3 linked regions of the Homo sapiens genome follow. The protein of the gene in region 2 purifies or fractionates together with the protein of the main gene of each other region. This does not show direct contact. Each region holds a gene or a part of one and is shown on either strand. Other genes may lie near its edges.

The links.
Region 1: the proteins of IFTAP (region 2) and WDR19 purify together in Homo sapiens (affinity purification with mass spectrometry; 3 studies listed by BioGRID and IntAct, with this or other methods). This does not show direct contact.
Region 3: the proteins of IFTAP (region 2) and IFT140 purify together in Homo sapiens (affinity purification with mass spectrometry; 3 studies listed by BioGRID and IntAct, with this or other methods). This does not show direct contact.

Annotation. Positions count from the first base shown.
Region 1 is NC_000004.12:39,283,509-39,286,447, forward strand, and holds the end of WDR19 (WD repeat-containing protein 19), read left to right. Parts: intron 1-1,978; 3' UTR 1,979-2,302; downstream 2,303-2,939. UniProt on the Homo sapiens protein: As component of the IFT complex A (IFT-A), a complex required for retrograde ciliary transport and entry into cilia of G protein-coupled receptors (GPCRs), it is involved in cilia function and/or assembly.
Region 2 is NC_000011.10:36,635,878-36,639,534, reverse strand, and holds part of IFTAP (intraflagellar transport-associated protein), read right to left. Parts: intron 3,485-3,657; coding exon 3,418-3,484; intron 1-3,417. UniProt on the Homo sapiens protein: Seems to play a role in ciliary BBSome localization, maybe through interaction with IFT-A complex.
Region 3 is NC_000016.10:1,514,514-1,518,170, reverse strand, and holds part of IFT140 (intraflagellar transport protein 140 homolog), read left to right. Parts: intron 1-3,657. UniProt on the Homo sapiens protein: Component of the IFT complex A (IFT-A), a complex required for retrograde ciliary transport and entry into cilia of G protein-coupled receptors (GPCRs).

The sequences.
Region 1 (2,939 bases), on a different chromosome or scaffold from region 2:
AAATATTTTTTCGTATTTCATTTGATTCTTCTATTGACTTTTTACCTATGTTTTTACAAAATTTTGTACTTGATTAATATCCTATTATATATATACACACACACACAAATATACATATGTACACATTATAAATCCTGTAATACAATGATATAATTTTTCTTTAGTTGTGTCTTTTTAAAGGAAATTATAAAGAAAAAAATACAATGTAGCTTTACATTTACCCACATTTATAATTTCCATGTTATTCTTGCCTGAATCCAAGTTTCCATATGGTATTATTTCCTTTCAGCCTGAAGTACTTCCTTTGACATTTCTTACATGTGCAGGTTTGCTGGTGACTTCTTCTCTGTCTTTATTTTCCTTCATTTTTGAGGATATTTTCGCTTGATATGGAATTCTGAGGTTTTCTTAAAGCACTTTCACGATTGTCTCCAGTATCAAACTTCATTGTTCCCCTGCATTTACTGGTTTCTTTCTGGCTACATTCAAGGAATTCTCTATTTTTGGTTTCCAGAATTTTGACTATACTTGCCTGGGTGTGGTTTTTAAATTTTTTTAACTTGGGATTTTCTAGAATTCTCGAATCTGTATGTTTATATTTTTCCCTCAATTGGGACATTTTGAGACATTATTTCTTCAATCACTTTTTCTATCCCTTTCTGTCTTCTCATTCTGGAACTCCAGTAATATCTGTGTTTGACTACTTGATGTCAAGGTCACTAAAGTTCTTTCCTCTGTCATCTTTTTTTTCTGTTCATATTGGATAATTAGTTTTGATCTATATTCTAGTTCACTGACCTTTCTTCTAAGTAAGTAAAAAAAATTTTTTTTTTTTTTTTTTTTTTTTTGAGACAGGATCTCACTCTGCTGCCTGGGCTGGGGTGCAGTGCCACAATCATCGTTCACTGCAGCCTCAAACTCCTGGGCTCAAATGATCTTCCTGCCTCAGCCTTGCAAGTAGCTATGACTACAGGCATGTGCCACCATACCCAGCTTTTTTTTTTCTTTTTTTTAGACATGGGGTCTCACTATGTTGCCCAGGCTGGTCTTGAACTCCTGGACTCAAGTGATCCTCCCACCTCAGCCTCCCAAAGAAGTGTTGGGATTACAGCTGTGAACCACCATTCCTGGCTTTCTAAAAAAAAAAAAAAAAAAAAAATTCAGATTTTGTCCCAAGTTTATAACTGTTATCTATGGGAAAATTAAACTGCAAGTGGAACCTTGTATTTTTAAAAAACATCCACAGAATCTCTCCAAACACTATCAATCAATCATGGCATTAGATTATGCTTTATACAAAACTTCAAGTAACCAGACCATGGTACATCATAGCTCCTTGCAGATATGTCTTCATTGAGTTATGATTATGCACTATCCTTCAGAAACGTCACTATAGCCAGGCGCAGAACCTGTGGCCATAGTCGCAGCTACTCAGGAGGCTGAGGCATGAGGATCACTTGAGCCCAGGAGCTCAGGGCTCTAGGAGACTATAATCATGCCTATGAACAGCCACTGTACTCCAGCCTGGGCAATGTAACAAGACCCCATCATCTCCTAGGAAAAAAAAAAAGACACACACAAAGTCACTGTAAGCATCCTTATACAGTGAATACTGGTTGAAGCTGTTGTTCACTGGCGTTTAGACAAATATAACTGTTTAATTTCAGGAAAATTTTTTCTCTACAAATTGCTGAGCACTTTGCATTTGTTCTTCCCAGTGAGATGGCTGTTATCATCAGCATCCTTACTTCATTACAAAGGCTCAAGAGCTTACCCACACAATTTTAGTCAGTTGGCAAGGCTAATACTGAAACTTGATGCGGATTACAGTCTAGAGATTTCTAACTTGAATGTTTCCTGTTCCACATTCTAGAAACAGGCAAAAAAAAATTCTTTTTAGTATGTTTGGCTTTATTACTAAATGCCAGCCATTACTTGAAACCCTTCTAGAGGCATGTGTTCTGTTTGTCCTTTCTAGATACAATGCTCCTGAGAAGACAGCATTTTCCACAGGAGGCTGTTTCCTCCCCTGGTGGATTTAAGAGACGGTCCTTTCTGGATACAGAGAAATGAAACAACGGTGACCTCTCCAGGTCGGCACTTTCCACTTCTGTACGGTGGCAAAACGATGACATGTAACCTTGCTGTTTATTGTACTTTGTATATTATTTCCTCTTCAAAGTCTTTCTTACACACTCTATCCTCTGCACTGTTAATAGTAACCTATGACATAATTGTAAATATTCAGCTTTTTGCTAACTTTTGTATTTTGAAAAACTTTAAAATAAAATTGTTGACTAGATATCTGTGACGTTTTTCTGGATTTGGAGACAGAAAAAGAGATAAAGGTAGTTCTGAAGGACATTGTCAAGTTTGAACACAGATGTGAATGGTGTAAAAAGCTTGAAATGAAAAGCTGTTGTTTATACAAATCACAGCTATTAAGCAGAATCAATCAGCCCAGAAGCAAAACATCAAAAATTAGGAAAACCAATCTTGTAAAGAATGAATGAAACTATCAGCTTATATCTATCTGCCGAGTCATTCTACTGCATACTACAGAATTCCCGTCACAAAATTAAGTCATTTGACTTCCCCTGAAAACATACATTGTTTGTTTGGAATCATCTTCTCTGAGGCTGTGTGAAGGTTCTTTTTCCCCATATCACACATACAACACACACCATCTGTACACACACACACACTCTCTCTTGCTCCAAGGGAGTACATACTTCTTCTTCTTTTCCCACATCAGTATATGCTTCCTTGCCATCCAAGGCCAGTCACCAAAGTCTGAGCAGCTGACAGAAATGAGTCAGGGAGTCAACTGTGAATGAATCCGATGATATTATTTTACAGTATGGCCCCAGCAACCTGAGCATTACAGTGGTACCCAGGGGCCTAAGCTAGGGCCCAAGGTGCCAGTAATGTTGTATAGC
Region 2 (3,657 bases):
TGGCTCCATGCTTCTTGCACAGCCTGCAGAACCATGAGCCAAATAAACCTCTTTTCTTTACCCAGCCTCAGGTATTCTTTTACAGCAACATAAATGGACTAAGGCAGAAGTACAGTACTGGAGAACCTGAAAATGAAAATCAAACAAGGCTGCCAACCTTTGAGCAGGAATCAGTGCCCATTCTCAGTCAATACAATCAGCCACACCATAAGTACACCCGCTGACCAAGAGATGTGTGTAAGACAGTATGAATCTCAGAAGTAGATTAAAAAAAAAAAAAAGTCTCTTGAGCTACTTGCACTTGACCAGAAAAGAGGTTGGGCTGGGCCCACCGAGGAAGCATAAAAATAAAGATGAACAGAAAATCTTCCTATTCTAATGTCCTCAGCACAATAACTAATAACTGATCCAAACAATAATTGTGCTGGGTAAAAGTATGGGCCAGTTTGTCTGAGGCATGACAGTCACCAGGTTAACTACCTTATCTCAAATTCAAAAAAGGAAGAATAGGTTAACTTGATGTCAAATAAACACAGTGCACCAAACTCTGTGGCAGACGCTACCCTCAGAAAACTGCTTAATACCATTGCTTAATAGAGTTGGCTCCACTGAAAAACCATCTCCAATCTTTCCACCTGGGCTGCCAAGTGATAAAACAAATATTAGAAAAGAATCATGCTCCTAAATCTTAGAGAATATTTATGAGAGTGAATGGGGTGAACAAATAAAGTCAATGGTAGAAAAACAATATGCAAGCCACTTCCTTGTTGCCCCAAGCAAATCTGTTGCTTAAACAATAACAACGGAATCTAATCAGTAAACCTCCCAGCTGCCAAAATTATACAAGCAACTTTACTATTTAAAATGTCACATTTCCCATCTGATATAAATATTTGCCTTCTGCTCACATTCCTGAAGTGTAAAACAAATTAGGCCCAAACTAAAATTCGCCTTGGCACCAACTATTTAATTTCTTTTCCCTTTAAATGACCCAGATTGTGCATTATGAAAATTGTAAAGCCCTGGTGGCCTTTTCAGTAATTAGAATAGATTGCTGAAGCCTAGGTTGATTTTCAGCATAGGCTTCACACATCATTCTATGTGTGGGAAGGTCTTGACGAGTTCATTCAAGTCTTGGTTCAGCCTCAGTAATCTTTTATACACAAATACAAGAAGGCTTGTTATCTGATTTCTGGAAAAATCATACTAGTAAGATGTTTTTATCAATATTTTAAAATAAATCTGGTAATTGAAAAATGTAACTTGAAAAAAATATTTAAAGAAAACAATGTGAAAATACTGAAGAAGGTAAAAAGGCGATTTAAAAGATTGACGGGCCGGGTGAGGGGGCTCACACCTGTAATCCTAGCACTCGGGCGGGCGGTGGGGCGGGGTGTGGCCGAGGCAGGTGGATTGCCTGAGCTCAGGAGTTCAAGACCAGCCTGGGCAACACAGTGAAACCCTATCTCTACTAAAATACATAAAAATTAGCCAGGCATGGCAGCATGCACCTGTAATCCCAGCTACTTGGGAGGCTGAGGCAGGAGAATTGCTTAAACCTGAGAGGCAGAGGTTGCAGTGAGCTGAGATCATGCCATTGCACTCCAGCCTGGGCGACAGAGTGAGACTCCATCTCAAAAAAAAAAAAAGATTGACATAACAAAAATCAGATCTGTTGGCTATGTTGGTTTATGTCAATATACAGAGTTCTCATACTGGTAAGAAGTGAAAAATTTAAACCATCACAAAAGCACCCAAAACATGTACTTTTGTGCCCTCTTATGAAATTTATTTTATATTGCATATGTATTACATGCAGACTAGAACCATTTGTCTCCACGTGTTATCCTCAAATTAATTATATTAGAATCATTGGGGGTGTCGGTTAAAATGCAGATCACCAGATGCCACCAAAGACCTTCTGAATTAGATTCTCTATTGGGAGGGAGATCCAGAAATCTGCATTTTTAACAAGGTTCCCTCCCCCAAATCACCCAAAACCCAAAACAGTGTGCTTCCTCTACAAATGTAGCTTCCTGACAAGTCCTTAGCTCTCCCTTCTAATCCAACTGGAGTCCCTTTGCTGCTCTCATTATAGAAATTCAGAGCCACTCAGGGTATTAAAGTTAGAGAACCTCTCCCTGGAGGATGTGATCCCTCTAGACCTCTGATCTCACTTAAACCAAATAAGTAAAGAATCTGCAACATCTGCTGGTTAATAGTGTGCTTGAGAAGCAATCCCTTCACGGAGTAGTGTGATGCTTGAAAGCAGAATAAAAATGTTCATTTCTTCCAATTACCAAAACCTCTCAAATTCAAGCAGCTGAAGAAGCTAGAGTAGAGGTTTATACAACCAATGTACAGATAGTCACCATCCCTAAACCAACTTTACCTAGTCACTTTAACTTCTGTCTGATTATAAATAAGCCATCCTCCCCCAACACTAATGACCATAAAACATGTTTATGACCACCTAAAGACAGTAAACAATAGTTAAACATCAACAACCAAACCTCCGTGGAAACTGCCCCTTCTGTAAAATTAGGCATTGACTTTGATATATTCTTGCATGTTAAATCAGGAATGAGTGTTTAAAAAAAAAAAAAAAAAACTTCCTGATTTTGAACATATTTCAAACATCCTTCGAGAAACAAAGGATACCTATGCCTATCCAGAAATGTTAACTAGAAAGAAAAAAGTTTTCCTCTAAATAAACATCAACAGACTAGCATGAAGCCTTTTTCAATCCAGCCCATGTGGAAAATGCCTCAGAAGAAACATTTACAATATATCTTTAGTATTAAGGGTTTAATTTACATAATAAATATTTTTAAAAGCAAAAAAATGGATTTTCTTTTATTTTCTTTAGAATAGTTCACTGAAGCCTGCATAGATTTTCAGCCTAGGCTTTGCATCTTATTCTACATGTGGGAAGGCCTTGACATTAGTTCACTCAAATCCACTGAAACTTGGTTCAGCCTCAGTAACCTTTAATACCAGGCAAGACAGCCTTATTTTTGTGATCAATTCTGATATTTTTATGATTTTTATGATTAATAGGTATTTTATGTGTCCCTCAAAAATAATTTCAGTTTACAAGACTGTACCTCTAGGAAACAGAGTTGACTTACAATGGCTCCACTTGAGACAATTACCTAAGAATCAATCCTGTGATGAATTGTTAAGGGGGAGAGCACATCTTTATTTCATTTAAGACCAAAGGTTTCACAATCTTCAAAAAGCTTTGACCTTTCAGGTGAAATTTTTGTTACTGAAAAAAATAGCTCACAACTTTAGTTCTTCCTGTCTTAGGAGAGGTGGAGGTAAGAATTGCCAAAAACAGGAAAGCTGTCTAAAGCCTTATTTGTAGTTTCTAGAAAGAGGTCAGGTAGTATAGAAAGGAAATAGAAAGCATACCCTCACTCATTTGGGGTTTAATCTCTTCATCCATGTCCAAATCTTCTAAATCTAGGAAATTATCTACCTAGAAAAAAGAATTAACATAATTTTTAAGCAGAATAGACCTAAAGAAAAACTGCAGTGAAAAGTCAACGAATCCACTTCCACAACACCTAACTGAGCAGCTGAATCCACTTTTCTCATTAACTCTTGAGTCCCAGCTCAAGGCTTTTGTGTTCACTGTGCTTTCCCAAGAGA
Region 3 (3,657 bases), on a different chromosome or scaffold from region 2:
CTCCTGAAACGAAGGCTTAACGGCTCAAACTGAGGCTGTGTGTGGCGGCTCACTCCTGTAATCCCAGCACTTTGGGAGGCTGAGGCAGGAGAATGACTTGAGCCCAGGAGTTCAAGAGCAGCCTGGGCGACATGGTGAAACCCCATCTCTACAAAAAGGGGAAAAATTAGCCAGGCATGGTGGCTCACACCTGGGGTCCCAGCTGCTTGGGAGGCTGAGGTGGGAGGATCCCTTGAGCCCAGGAGGTTGAGGCTGCAGTGAGATCTGATGGCGCCACTGCACTCCAGCCTGGGTGACAGAGCGAGACCCTGTCTCAAAAGAAAAAAAAAATCTGTCGGTAGCAAAAAGTAACAGTCTCACGCTGTTACTGGCTGTTACTAGCAGTGTCGCAGGAAAGCGACAGACTTACTTTATTTGTGAAGAAATGTCTGCATGTACCCGAGTCTGAATAACCACGATTTCTTTTTCAGGGATTTTCACAAAAAAAGAAAATGGTGTTCCATTTTTTAGTCGCTTATTTTTTAATTTTAGAGACAGCGTGTAGTCACTTTAAAGTGACCAGCTAATCACTTATTCAGCCGCAGTGTTCTAGCGTTTTCCTCATCCCCACCAACATTTGATCATTCTTTCGAACTGTAGCCATCCTAGGGGGTGAACAGTACCTTGCTGAGGTTTAAATTCACATTTTCTGGATGAGTAGTGATGTGCAGCTCCTTCTCATGTGCTTATTATCCATTTACACACCTTCTGTGAAGGCTTCAAGTCTCTTCTCATCATTTTATTGGGTTTTCTTATTATTGTACTTTTTTTTTTTTTTTTTGGAGACGGAGTCTCACTCTGTTGCCCAGGCTGGAGCGCAGTGGCGCGATCTCGGCTCACTGCAAGCTCCGCCTCCTGGGTTCACGCCATTCTCCTGCCTCAGCCTCCCAAGTAGCTGGGACTACAGGTGTGCATCAGCATGCCTGTAGAGATGGGGTTTCACCATTTGGCCAGGCTGGTCTTGAACTCGTGACCTCAAGTGATCCACCCGCCTCCACCTCCCAAAGTGCTGGGATTACAGGCGTGAGCCACCGCGCCTGGCCGAAGTTCCCTTCTATTCCTTTTTTCCTCTGCTTCTGAAATTCCAATGACTTGTATATACAGTACCATCCCCTAGCTCAACTGATGCTCTTCTTTTCTCCCCCAAGGACTTTTTCTGTTTTTCATTTTAGGGATTTGCCATTTCTGTTGCTTCAAGTTTACCAGCTTTCCTTCTGCAGTGTCTCACTCTGATGGTAATCCCATCCATCTTTTTCATGTCAGTTTTCTACCAGTCAACTTTTTCTACCAGTTTTTATTATTGTTACTTTAAACCTTTTTTCCTGCCTTCTTTTTAGTTGATTTTTTTTTTTTTTTTTTTTTGAGACAGAGTGTCGCTCTGTCGCCCAGGCTGGAGTGCGGTGGTGCAATCTCGGCTCACTGCAAGCTCTGCCTCCCGGGTTCACGCCATTCTCCTACCTCAGCCTCCCGAGTAGCTGGGACTACAGGCGCCCGCCACCACGCCCAGATAATTTTTTTGTATTTTTAGTAGAGACAGGGTTTCACCGTGTTAGCCAGGATGGTCTCGATCTCCTGACCTCATGATCCGCCCGCCTCGGCCTCCCAAAGTGCTGGGATTACAGGCGTGAGCCACCGCACCTGGCCTTAGTGGACTATTTTTTATAATTTCATTTTAGCTATCAGCTTTTTATCTCTACTCCTCTTTGCATTGTATTTCTAGTGTTTGCCCTGGAGATTACCATAAACATACTTACCACACTAGAGTTAGCAGGTAGGTCCATTTCCCACCCGTGTCCCCACCTGTATTTGTCGTATGTGTAACATGTACATGTATTATAAACACAGTATAGTGTTATAATTGTTGCTTTCAACAGTCATATGTATTTTGAAGAAATTAAAAGGAAAGAAATAGTCTTTTACATTTACCTACATATTTACCATCCATTTCTGGTGTTTTTTTTTTTTTTTTTTTTTTTTTTTTTTTTTTTTTTTGAGACAGAGTTTTGCTCTTTGTAGCCCAGGCTGGAGTGGGCAACAAACCTCAGCTCACCACAACCTCTACCCTCCAGGTTCAAGTGATTCTCCTGCCTCAGCCTCCGGAGTAGCTGGGATTACAGGCATGCGCCACCACGCCTGGCTAATTTTGTATTTTTAGGGGAGATGGGGTTTCTCCATGTTGGTCAGGCTGGTCTCAAACTCCCAACCTCAGGTGATCTGCCTGCCTCGGCCTCCCAAAGCGTCATTTCTGGTGTTCTTACTTCTTCCCTATGATTCCGATTTGCATGTGGTATCACTCCTCTTCAGCCTGAGCTCCCTTTAACATTTCTTCTAGTTCAGATCTCCTGATGATGAATTTTCTTACTTTTCGTTAATCTGAAATGTATTTATTTTGCCTGTATTCTTCAAGGTTGTTCTCATCAGATAGAGAATTCTGAGGCCAGGCACAGTGGCTCATGCCTGTAATCTCAGCACTTTGGGAGGCCAAGGTGGGAGGATTTCTTGAGGCCAGGAGTTCAAGTCCAGCCTGGGTAACAAGTGAGACCCCATCTCTGAAAAAAATAGCAAGGCATGGTGGCATGCACCTGCAGTCTTGGCTGCTTGGGAGGCTGAGGTGGGAGGACTGCTTGAGCCCAGGAGGTTGAGTCTGCAGTGAGCTGTGATAGCACCACTGCACTCCAGCCTGGGTGACAAAGCAAGATCCTGATTCAAAAAAAATCCTGATTTGACAGATTTTTTTCCTTTCAGCACTTGAATGTTTTCCCTGTCTGGGCCTCCATTGTTTCTGGAAGAGTCAGCTATGGGCTGTCTGTGGGGCCCTTACATGTCATGTGTCTCTCCATCTCCCACTGCACTGGCTGCTGTCATGACTTTCTTCTTGAATTTGTGTTTCAGCAGTGCGATAATGATGTTCCTAGGTGTTTTCATTGTATTTATCCTGGGCTTTTGGGATCTATATTTGTGTTTTGCCAAATTTGGGAAATTTGCTCTTTTTCTCCTTCTGGGACTCCAATTAAATGTTAGGTCTTCCATATCTAGTAGACACACATTTGTGATTACTGCTCATTATTTTCTTTTTTTCTGTCCTTTGGATTAATTTGTATTTATCTAGACTTTCTTTAGCTATCTTCAATCTGCTGTTAACCTCTCCAGCAATCTTTTTAGAGCTTGTATTTTGCAGCCCTAGAATTTACACTTAGTTCTTTTTATTATTTATTGGCTAAAATTCCCTATTTGTTAATTTGTTTAAAATATATTTTATATTTATATCCTAAAGCAGAGTTGTAACTGCTGCTGTAAAATCTTAGCTACCGGTTCCAATATCTGGGTCATGTAGGATTGATCTCCATTACTTGCCTTTTGAGTATGGGTCAAATTTTCCTGTTTCTTATGTCTAGTCATTTTTTTGTATCATGGACATTGTGGATAATCCATTGTAGAGACTCTGGATTCTGTTACATTCCTCCAAAGAGTATTGCTTTTTTTTGGTTCATTTTATTAGGCAATCACCTTTGCTCAGCTCAGAGCCGAAACTCTTTCCCCTGTGGTGGATAGCAGCTGAAATCCCTGCTTGTAGCGTGAGTTGGCTTAAAGTCTGCACCTCCCCTGCCTCATGTGTAG